3 linked regions of the Homo sapiens genome follow. The protein of the gene in region 1 purifies or fractionates together with the protein of each later gene. This does not show direct contact. Each region holds a gene or a part of one and is shown in the gene's direction. Other genes may lie near its edges. The genes, in order: CEACAM21, PTPRS and RYK.

Region 1 (3,652 bases):
ATCCAAGCATTTTCATACATCCTCTGAAATCTAGGCGAAGGTTCCCAAACCTCAATCCTTGACTTCTGTGCACCTGCAGGCTCAACACCACATGGAAGCTGCCAAGGTTTGGGGCTTGCACCCTCTGAAGCCATGGCCCCAGCTGTACCTTGGCCCTCTTTAGCCATGGCTGGAGTGGCTGGGATGCAGGGCACCAAGTCTCTAGGCCGCACACAGCAGGGGAGCCCTGGGCCTGGCCCAGGAAACATTTTTTCCTCCTAGGCCTCCAGTCCTGTGATGGAAGGGGCTTCCAGGAAGGTCTCTGACATGCCCTGGAGACATTTTTGCCATTGTCTTGGGGATTAACATTTTGCTCTTCATTGTTTATGCACATTTCTGCAGCTGGCTTGAATTTCTCCTCAGAAAATGGATTTTTCTTTTCTATTGCATCATCAGGCTGCAAATTTTCCAAACTTTTATGCTCTGCTTCCCTTTTAAACATAAGTTCCAATTCCAAACCATACCTTTGTAAATACATAAAACTGAGTGTTTTTAACAGTACCCAAGTCACATCTTGAACACTTTGCTGCTTAGAATTTTTTTTCCACCAGTTGCCCTAAATCATTTCCCTCAAGTTCAAAGTTCTGCAGATCTCTAGGGCAGGGGCAAAATACCACCAATCTCTTTTCTAGAGTATAACAAGAGTCACCTTTGTTCCAGTTCCCAAGAAGTTCCTCATCTCTGTCTGAGACCACCTCAGCTTGGACTTTATTGTCCATATCACTATCAGCGTTTTAATCAAAACCATTCAACAAGTCTCTAGGAAGTTTCAAACTTTTTTCCTGTGTCTTCTTCTGAGCCCTCCAAACTGTTCCAACCTCTGCCTGTTACCCAGTTCCAAAGTCACTTCCACATTTTCAGGTATCTTTATAGCAGCACTCCACTAGCTGGTACCAATTTACTGTATTAGTCCATTCTCACACTGCTAATGAAGACATACCTGAGACTTGGTAATGTATGAAGAAAGAGGTTTAATTGATTCACAATTCCACATGGCTGGAGAGGTCTCACAATCATGATGGAAGGTGAAAGGCATGTCTTACATGGCAGCAGGCAAGAGGACATGTGTAGGGAAGCTTCCCTTTATGAAACCATCTGATCTCCTGAGACTTATTCACTATCACAAGAACAGGATGGAAAAAACCCACCCTCATGATTCAATTACCTCCCACAAGGTCCCTCCCATAACACATGGGGATTATTACAATTCAAGGTGAGATTTGGGTGGGGATACAGAGCCTAACCATATCAATGGTGATGAACACCAAATACGTATTTCACAATATCACATACCCTTCTCCCTCAAGGCAATGGGAGGGTGAGAAAAGCTGCAGGTAGATTGATTCCCACTGTGCCTTCCATGTGGAAGGCCCCTGAAAACAGTCAATGAACATCATCCCTGCTCATCAGCATTGAGTTGGCAGCAAGGGCCTGCCCTTTACGACTGCCATGGGATGGAAAAAAAGAAACAGGGGGAAGAGGAGTGATGTGAGAGGAAGGAGGGACTAAAAAACACAGGAGCAGGATGAGGTGCAGGCTTCCTGTGGGAGAATGTAGGAGTTGATGCATCCCAGTAATTCAAGCCTAAGACACAGAAAATGGTGCAACCACGGAGAGCAAGGGAGCCAGCTATGAGGACAGCACAACAGACCACACTCAGGCTCCATGGCATTTCCTTCCTCCCTGACCATGCCCCTGCCCTGCAAGGCCCCTCATGGTTCCCCCTGGAACAGATTTGGACCTCATCCCCTTTGCCTTCTTCTTTCAGCAGATGACAACACTCTAGGCATCCTGATCGGGGTCCTGGTTGGGAGTCTTCTGGTGGCTGCACTTGTGTGTTTCCTGCTCCTCCGAAAAACTGGCAGGTACCACAGCTTTTCCCCATTCTGCTCCCATCCTTCACGCTGACCCCAGGCGAGAAGGAAGGAGACCCTGTCTTGTATTCAGTGCCAGGCTCTCCCCAGCCTCCCGACTCCCCAGGGATCCTTCCCTCTCATTCCATGGCACCTTCCTCACCAGCTGCTGACCCTGGGCTGCTTCCTCAACAGCTTTGTCCTCAGTGAATTCAGTCCAATTAAGGCCATGCCCCTGAGCATGGTCCTAGTTTCCTAGCACAGCAAAGCCACAGCTGCCTGGAGCAGGGGGGAGCGGTGCTCAATACCTGGTACCTCCCCCTGTTCACTGAATCCATCCACCCAGTGAGAGGGCATCTGAGGGGGGATCCTGGGCATCATCACATAGTGGAGACTGGAACAGCCTGGACGGGCTGGGTGGGGTCAGCACCCCTTTGACTGACATGGTAACTGCAGACACTGAGCTGTGAGAAGGGAGAACCGGGGCCCCAATATGGCATATCCTGGAATGTCGTTTATGTCTCTTGCCAAAGGGCAGAGACAGAAGACAAGATCATTGTCCCATTTCAGCATCTCCAGCCCTGAGTGGAGTGTCTGGTCACAGCAGGGACACTGAGTTCCAGGAGAATCCAAGATGCATGCAGTCCCCTCAGTGTCCTGCACATGTGCCTGGCCCTGCTTTCCCCCTGGTGCCTTGACCCTTCCTCTCAGGCAACCCCTGGTGGTCTGATTCCTTCCCTGGGTCCTCAGTCCCTTTCCTGTGTCACTGGATCAATGTTCTCCTGGCCCAGCATCTGCCTGAGAGTCCTTCCCCTCTGGCCAGGACAGATGTGGCTTTGTAAGGCCTTTCCTCAACTCCCCTCACCTGGGCCCCTCCTACCACAGAACTCCATAAAGAAAGGAGGTCTCCATACCCCTCTTGGAAATAGGCTCCTTTCCTGGTCCCCTATTTTAACTCCAATTTGTGACTTTTAACCTTGCACCTTCACAAATAACCCTGACCTTTCCTAGGGCCAGCGATCAGAGTGACTTCAGGGAGCAGCAGCCCCCAGCCTCCACCCCCGGTGAGTGTCCCTTCAGTCTGGGTGTGGCTGGGAACTACTAAGCCAGCCCCAAGTTGTCCACTCCTGCCAGTTACACCCAGGGGCCTCTGACCCTATCCCTGGGGCTGCAAAGAGGATCCCATAAAACATCACACAGGAAACCCCAACTGGCCGGGTCAGCCCTAACCTCCGGGCTCTGGGTCATGGGTCACTTCCTCAACCTCACTTGCTTACTTGACCCCTAAAATAACCTGAGAAAGGCTCCCTCTCCCCAATTCTCTAAGAACTGAGGACCCCCACACACTCTTGCAGGAGGGGCCCAGCTATCCTAACACTCTCGTGCTCACTTTTGTCTCTGTCCCCAGGCCATGGACCCTCTGACAGCTCCATCTCCTAGGTAAGACTGTCCGTTCCCAATCCCATTTCCACTGGGGCCCCAGCTGTGCAGGCTCAGGGCAGGGGGACTGTCAATCCCCAGCACAAACCCACCCTACCCAGAATGACTTGGATAAGGTTAGACCTGCCCTGGCCATGAGCTGGGCCTCTGTTCAGGGCCAGGATCATCCACTCCCTGTGCTAACCCCACCCTGGGACCCTCCATCACCTGAGGAGAGCCCTGGAATTCCTACACAGCAGGAATCCTTCCCTGTCCCCTGACACCCCTCTCTCCCCTGCCCAGATTCCCCTACCCAGCACCAGGGCAGCTGCTCTCATCTA
Region 2 (3,652 bases), about 36 Mb from region 1:
AGGAAGAAATGAGTTAACGTGTGTAAGCACAGATTCAGAACGGCACCTAGAATGTAGCTGCCACCTCTATTCTGTTTTTGTTATTATTTTTGACAACATGGGAGCTACACTGATATGTTGAAGGACCTGCCCAAGAGGGGCTCTCCAGTGTCCACCCGCGCCCCGCTACCCCGCCCTCAGCCCCCCGATGGGGTCCAGCACCAGGGAGATGTCAGGATGACTCAGCCACTGCAAACTGGGGCGTTCCCCTTCACTGGCTGCTTAATCAAGGCCGCCCCACTTCTGCGGCAGGACTGGGCGACTGGCGGGAGCTGAACCACAGGGGGCCTGGATGGTGGACAGGGAGGACACGTGGCTGCCTTGGGAGCTCCAGGCACTCCAGGGACTCCACATGTGGCTCCCAACTTCCAGAGCCCCTGGTGGGCCCGAGTGATCACCAAAGGGGGGAGTTTGGGGGGGATTTGGGGGTTTAACAGCAGTCATTTGATGGGCACTCAGGAAAGTGATCGGTTGACAAGCATGGTGTGCGAGCGAGCATGCATGCATTCATTCGAATATTCACCAGTTCATTAATTCATTCATTCCATCAGGATTGCTGGAAACCTGCTGCTAAGGAACTTGGAAGCCAGAATCTAAGCAGCTGTGGGGCTTGGGCTAGTAATAAAGCTGTTCTGTGCCTCAGTTTCCTGATCTGTAAAATGGGTGCTTTGACATTGCCTCTATCATAAGTGGAGACAGATGAACTGGTGTGGGGGGCACCAAGGACAGAGACTGAGAGTGGCACCTGCTGCTTTGTGGCTGGAGGTGAGGGGGGCGGAAACAAGAAGAGAAGAGTTGACTTTAGCTGGGGAAGACCACACAGGACCCCCCACCCCAAGGAGTTCGAATCGCATTGTGTGTGTGTGTGTGTGTGTGTGACAGGACTCACACTGTTGCTCAGGCTGGAGTGCAGTGATGCCATAATGGCTCACTGCAGTGTCTTAACTCCTGGGCTCAAGCAATCCTCCCACCTCAGCCTCCCAAGTAGCTGGGGACTATAGGCATCCACCAGCACGCCCAGCTGACTTTTGTATTATTATTATTATTATTATTATTATTTATTTATTTTTTTTTTGTAGAGATGGGTTTCACCATATTGCTCAGGCTGGTCTCAAACTCCTGGGTTCAAGCTATCTGCCTGCCTTGGCCTCGGAAAATGCTGGGATTCCAGGTGTGAGCCACCACACCTGGCGAATTGGCATTTTTTATTTATTTTTTATTTTATTTTATTTATTTGAGACAGTCTTGCTCTGTCGCCAGGCTGGAGTGCAACGGCGTGATCTCAGCTCACTGCAATCTCCGCCTCCCGGGTTCAAGTGGTTCTCCTGCCTCAGCCTCCCGAGTAGCTGGGATTACAGGCACCCGCCACCACATCTGGCTAATTTCTGTATTTTTGGTAGAGATGGGGTTTTACCCCATTGGCCAGGCTGGTCTCAAACTCCTGACATCAAGTGATCCGCCTGCCTTGGCCTCCCAAAGTGCCGGGATTACAGGCGTGAGCCACCGCGTCTAACAAATTGCATTTTTTAGATGTGCGGTCAGAGTTCTCTGAAAGCCCCCAGAGCTGGGCTGCCAACATCAGGATCAACAGAAAACCTGGAATGTTGGGAATGCTTCTTGGAACATCTGTCAGGCCAAGGCCCAGAGAGGGAGAGCAACTTGCCCAAGACCACACAGCCATGCCTGCCTGCCTGCTGCTGGGCCTTGCGCAGGAGGATGGACAGGGACCCCTTTCACCAGTCCAAAGGGAGAAACCGAGGCAGGAAGCCATGGCGGGTGTGTGATTCTCAAGCCATAACGCCTGTCAGGGCTGGAGTCTCCACTCCAGCGGGTCGTATGGGCCAAAAAGGCTTCTTCAACCTCCAAGGAAGCCCTGAATGGCTCCAGGGCCAGATCTGTTGGTTTTTCCAAGGAAAAGCAGAAATCTAGATTTTAAGTAAAATTGCCCAATTTTGGCTGGGCATGATGGCTCACGCCTGTAATCCCAGCACTTTGGGAGACCAAGGCAGGCAGATCACCTAAGGTCAGAAGTTTGAGACCAGCCTGGCCAACATGGTGAAACCCCGCCTCTACTAAAAATACAAAAATAATCTGGGCATGGTGGTGCATACCTGTAATCGCAGCTACTTGGGAGGCTGAGACAGGAGAATCGCTTGAACCTGGGAGGCGGAGGTTGCAGTGAGCTGAGATCATGCCACTTGCACTCCAGCCTGGGCGATAGAGTGAGACTCTGTCTAAAAAAAAAAAAAAATTGCCCTATTTTAACATCCTTGGGTTGAAACATCTTAACATGGCACAGTACAGAAATCCAGGGCCACCGTGGACTTTGACCCCTTCCCCAACAATTAAAAGTTGCGTGACTTCTGACACCTCCATTGCCGTCCGCGGGCCTCAGTTTCCAGGCCTGTGAAATGGGTTTAAGACTCCCAGCCACCTCTGCGGTTCTTTAGAGGCACCAGTGTGATAGCTTACAGAGAGTGCTGAGAACAGGGCCTGGGCCAGCGTCCGCGCTCGATAAACGTTGGCTCTGATTATATTAATATTGGTCATAATGATAAACTTGACTTAAATTAAATACTGCGTAGAAGGAAGCCGGCTGTCCCGCGGGGCAGGGCTGCGAATTATCTACTGGCGGCAGGACCTGCTTCTCCATCCCTCGTTCTTTCTGTAGCGCAGTCGTTTGCTCTTGGGGCTGGAGCACCCGGGTTACCAGTATTACTCGTTGAGTGTACTGCTGTGGTTCTCAGCCGGGGTCACTTTTGCTCCCCTGGGCACACTTGGCAACGTCTGGGGACATTTTTGGGTGTCATGTCCAGGGGGGTGCTGCTGGTATGGAGTAGGTGGAAGCCAGAGATGCTGCTCAACTCTGTGTAATGGCCAGGATGACCCCATCCCAGATAATGACCCCACCCTCATGTACACTGTGCTGAGGTTTAGAAACCCTGATTTTGCCAGGCATGGTGGCTCACGTCCATAATCCCAACACTTTGGGAGGTTAAAGCGGGAGGATTGCTTGAGCCTAGGAGTTCAAGATCAGACTGGGCAACACAGTGAGACCTCATCTCTACAAAAAACAAAAAAAAATCAGCCGAGGGTTGGGGTGCACACGTACGGTCCCAGCTACTGGGGAGGCTGAGGTGGGAGGATTGCTTGAGCCTAAGAGTTTGAGGCTGCAGTGAGCTATGATTGCATCACTCCACTCCAGCCTGGGCAACAGAGCAAGGCCTTCTCTTTTTTTTTTTTTTTTTTTTTTAAAAAAAGAAGCCCTGACTTATGCTGAAGACCCAAGACAGCGAGAGAAATCAGGCAGATGGTGCCTTTGTCCCTGAGCGTCCACCCAACACGCTCCCTGACGTCTCGCGGGGCCAGAACGCTTAGATTGCTAATGGGTTCCCTCTGCACATCTGTCCTGGTTCCACTGCCCCATTGATTATTGGAAGTGGGTAATTGCCCCTGTCGGATGAATTCTAGAGAGTGTGAACTGCCGGGGTTTCCGGCAACAGTGCTGGCTTCAACTCCCAGATATCAGCAGGGTGCAGAGAGGCTGCCAGGTCCCAGGACTTTTTCTCTTGGCCCCATCTGGCCCTGGGAGCCCAGACTCCGGCCCTGCTGG
Region 3 (3,652 bases), on another chromosome or scaffold:
TTGCGTTTGGTATTTCTCTTTTTTCCTTTTCTTTTTTTCACTTTTTTCTCTTTTACTCATTAAAATATGTATTTTGGGGCAAGCTATTTCTCTGAGCCTCAGTTTTCTCACCTGTAAAATTGAGCTACCAATGATTCTCACAGGTTTATTGAGGAAATTAAATGTATTGAAGGATGCAAAATGATTTGAATTTGTAGGTACTCATAAACCTGATACTACAGTACACAGGTATCCCCCTCCTCATCCAAGTTCAGTTGTTCTGACCTCAGGGTTCACACTTGGCGGCAGATCAGTGGATGTACCGGATCTGAGTCCTTCCCAGCCATGTGGCAGCAGCTCTGTGTAGAGACGTTGCCTGCCCCCCGCCCCCTGCACGCTCTCCAGGAGCCAAGTACAGCCAGGAATTGGCCAAAATGGAGAGCCCCGAACGGACCATGAATGGACACTGTTGCCACTGTTTACTATTCCTGTTCCTTTCTGTAGTTTACCTGCTGATTTTAAATAAACCTGATTGCTTACTCAAGCAAGGTTGGAAGTTTTTTTAATCCTTTAATTTAAAACTTTAAATACAGTAAAAATCCATGACTTCTTATATTTCCCCTCATTTGCGTATTTCACTTAGGATGCTCTTCCCTTTAATTAAACTAAAATTCTGTTCATTTTCCACTTCTCAATTATGCAGACTAGCTATAATATTTAAAGTTACAAATTCTCATATTAGAAGAATCTTGGACATAATTCATAATACGTAGCTTGTAATCAACAGTAAACTATTACTTCCAATGGATCTAATTACTTAGAATTTATAATACTAATATTGGATGCACTCTTTTTTATCTTAGCAAGGGAAACTAACTGTGTATGATAGACATTTTTTTGTAAATAACATTTCGCTTTTCCAAAGCATGAGTTGAGCTGTTATTTTTTGTCCTGTAGCTGGCTGTGGGCGCTAGCCCCCTGACTGTTGTTTTAAATGTCCCCTCATTGTGCTTCTGCTCCTTTACTAGTGGGCCTTTGGAGTGACGCTGTGGGAACTCATGACTCTGGGCCAGACTCCCTACGTGGACATTGACCCCTTCGAGATGGCCGCATACCTGAAAGATGGTTACCGAATAGCCCAGCCAATCAACTGTCCTGATGAATTGTGAGTTTTTTTGAGCTTGAAGGCATGAGTTTTATTCCATTTACTATATTGGAATAAAGGAAAAAGAGCAGGTTTCCATATTCACACAGAGCCTTCCCTTTTGAGAATAATGACTCTTTGGATTTAAATTAGACTCTTATAAAAAACCACAAAGTCAGGGAGATTCGTTCACTCTTTCATGCATTTGATATTAGAACGTCTTGCATTTTATTTTATAGTGCATAATCTAAGCACTATAAATTAGTCTGAGAGGACGTACTAAGAAAATTGAATGCTACGTCAGTTATTCTATATAAAGTGAGTATCTGACTTTTATAGTTATAAAGTAGTTATAAAGGACATAGTAGTTATAAAAAACCTCTCTCGTTGTCATTTTGCCTTGCCAGTTAGTATCAGCTAATACAGGGAAGATGATCTGGACTAGTAAGCCAAATAGTTGCTTTCTGTTTCCTGCTTCTATCACATAGCTTATCTTGCCATGTAATGAGAATGGGATAAACAGGAGGCTATGCAGGGTGATTGATCGTACAGATGAGTATATTCTCAGTTCCAGAACCTCCTGAAGGTTTCTGCACCATGACAAGGTGGCAGCTTTTGTACTGATTTTACTCTAGATCCAGGGTTCATAGAACTTAGATAAAACTTTCTCTTCCTCCAAGTTCTTTTCTTAATTTAACTACAGGAAAACACACATTCTTTTTTTACTGTGTTTTAGGTTTTTACATGAAATCTCTGTATTTGCTGAAATATTTTGATATGTTGTCATGAAGAATTGAAATTCACACATAATCCAAATAATTTCTTTTAGCTTCTTTCTAGAGCTGCCAACAGATAGTAAAATGGATCCGTTTTTAATATATCATCCTCTCCATACCCACCTTTAGACAGGCAACATAACTGGCATCAAACTGAGCAAAAGTTATGAATACTGTATCCTTACTAGCCCAAATTTTCATTTTTGTCACTCTGCAGATTTGCTGTGATGGCCTGTTGCTGGGCCTTAGATCCAGAGGAGAGGCCCAAGTTTCAGCAGCTGGTACAGTGCCTAACAGAGTTTCATGCAGCCCTGGGGGCCTACGTCTGACTCCTCTCCAATCCCACACCATCAGGAAGAAGGTGCCTGTCGGGGCTCACTTGAAGCCTGTCAGGGATGCTTTGTATCTAACACAACGCCAACAGAAGCACATTTGTCTTCCAGAACACCGTGCCTTAGAAATGCTTTAGAATCTGAACTTTTTAAGACAGACTTAATAATGTGGCATATTTTCTAGATATCACTTTTATTAGGTTGAACTGAAAGGGTTTTTGTAAATTTTTTGGCCAAAATTTTTTAAAACATACTTACTTTGGACTAGGGGTACATTCTTACAAAATAAATAAACAGTTTTTAAAATTGTTTAGACACAGATATTTGGAATTAGCTATCTTAGTGCCAACTGCTTTTTATTTTTTTACTTCATCAAGGTGATGTAAGTGACTCACCTTTAAAGTTTTTTTAGTGTTATTTTTTATCACTACTCTGGGAAATGGTTTGTCTTCAAGATGCAATACTTTTCTTAGTAAAGGAAAAACAGCATAAAAAGATACCTGGTCTGCCTTGTACAAGAAAAGGCAATATTAGAGGAAGAAAATTTAAAGAAAAGCTAGAGGAAAAAAAAATTTTTTTAAAAATACTTATTAGAAGCAAACTGCCCTTGCATGGAAAACTGTTTATTTTTTTCAGTGAAAAGGAATTCTGCTTTCGTGTTTTTGGGAAAGCAGGAACTGAGTTCATTACATCTTTAATTTGGCAGAAATTAGCCTTTCTGTGAACCAGATGTGGTTTGGGGCAGATCTGTAGTAAACAATGGTGATTTTATTTATTTTTACTCTCTGGAAAAGGAGATAATACAATTCCAGAAAGTGAACTCATATTTCTAAGGTTAAGATTCCCTTTTATTGCACCTAGAATAGTGCTATGCACAGAGCGGGTGCTTGAGTTGTTGTCGTTTTTTGTTTGTTTTTTAAATGTAAACTGGTAAATTTTGTGCTTATCTTCAAGGCTGGCTTAAGTATAAAATTGTTTTTTAAACACTTGAAAAATTAAAGGATTTGTTTTATATTATGACAGTATTGAAATTATTTTTCATAATGAATGATTGGTTATTGTGTCTGGTAAGTCTTTGAACATTCAACAGCCAGACATTTGTGTTTTATTTCATGATGTTCCAGTCAAGTTCCAAAGCCCTAACACAGTTAAGCTGGCTCAGACTCCAGGTTCTAGTAAAAAGTTGGAATTAATGTTATAAGGAAGTATTAAAACACTGAAACATTTCTCCAGAACCAGCAAGTAAGGGATATGTATGTATTTATGCTCAGTTTTAGTTGGCCTAAAGCAGAGTTGAATGGGCTTTCTAAATAGCTAGGCCTGCAGGTACCTGCCACTACTCCCATCTTCAGAGGTATATAAGGGAGAATGTGTAGCAGTTGGAGGCTTTTGCTGTTTTTAAAAAAGCCTTATGAATCAGC

Evidence for each region.
Region 2: the proteins of CEACAM21 (region 1) and PTPRS purify together in Homo sapiens (affinity purification with mass spectrometry; 3 studies listed by BioGRID and IntAct, with this or other methods). This does not show direct contact.
Region 3: the proteins of CEACAM21 (region 1) and RYK purify together in Homo sapiens (affinity purification with mass spectrometry; 3 studies listed by BioGRID and IntAct, with this or other methods). This does not show direct contact.

Annotation. Positions count from the first base shown.
Region 1 is NC_000019.10:41,582,540-41,586,191, forward strand, and holds part of CEACAM21 (cell adhesion molecule CEACAM21 isoform 1 precursor), read left to right. Parts: intron 1-1,807; coding exon 1,808-1,904; intron 1,905-2,903; coding exon 2,904-2,956; intron 2,957-3,300; coding exon 3,301-3,332; intron 3,333-3,614; exon of another isoform or gene 3,615-3,652.
Region 2 is NC_000019.10:5,330,769-5,334,420, reverse strand, and holds part of PTPRS (receptor-type tyrosine-protein phosphatase S isoform 1 precursor), read left to right. Parts: intron 1-3,652. UniProt on the Homo sapiens protein: Cell surface receptor that binds to glycosaminoglycans, including chondroitin sulfate proteoglycans and heparan sulfate proteoglycan.
Region 3 is NC_000003.12:134,156,729-134,160,380, reverse strand, and holds the end of RYK (tyrosine-protein kinase RYK isoform 2 precursor), read left to right. Parts: intron 1-1,007; coding exon 1,008-1,144; intron 1,145-2,116; coding exon 2,117-2,228; 3' UTR 2,229-3,248; downstream 3,249-3,652. UniProt on the Homo sapiens protein: May be a coreceptor along with FZD8 of Wnt proteins, such as WNT1, WNT3, WNT3A and WNT5A. Involved in neuron differentiation, axon guidance, corpus callosum establishment and neurite outgrowth.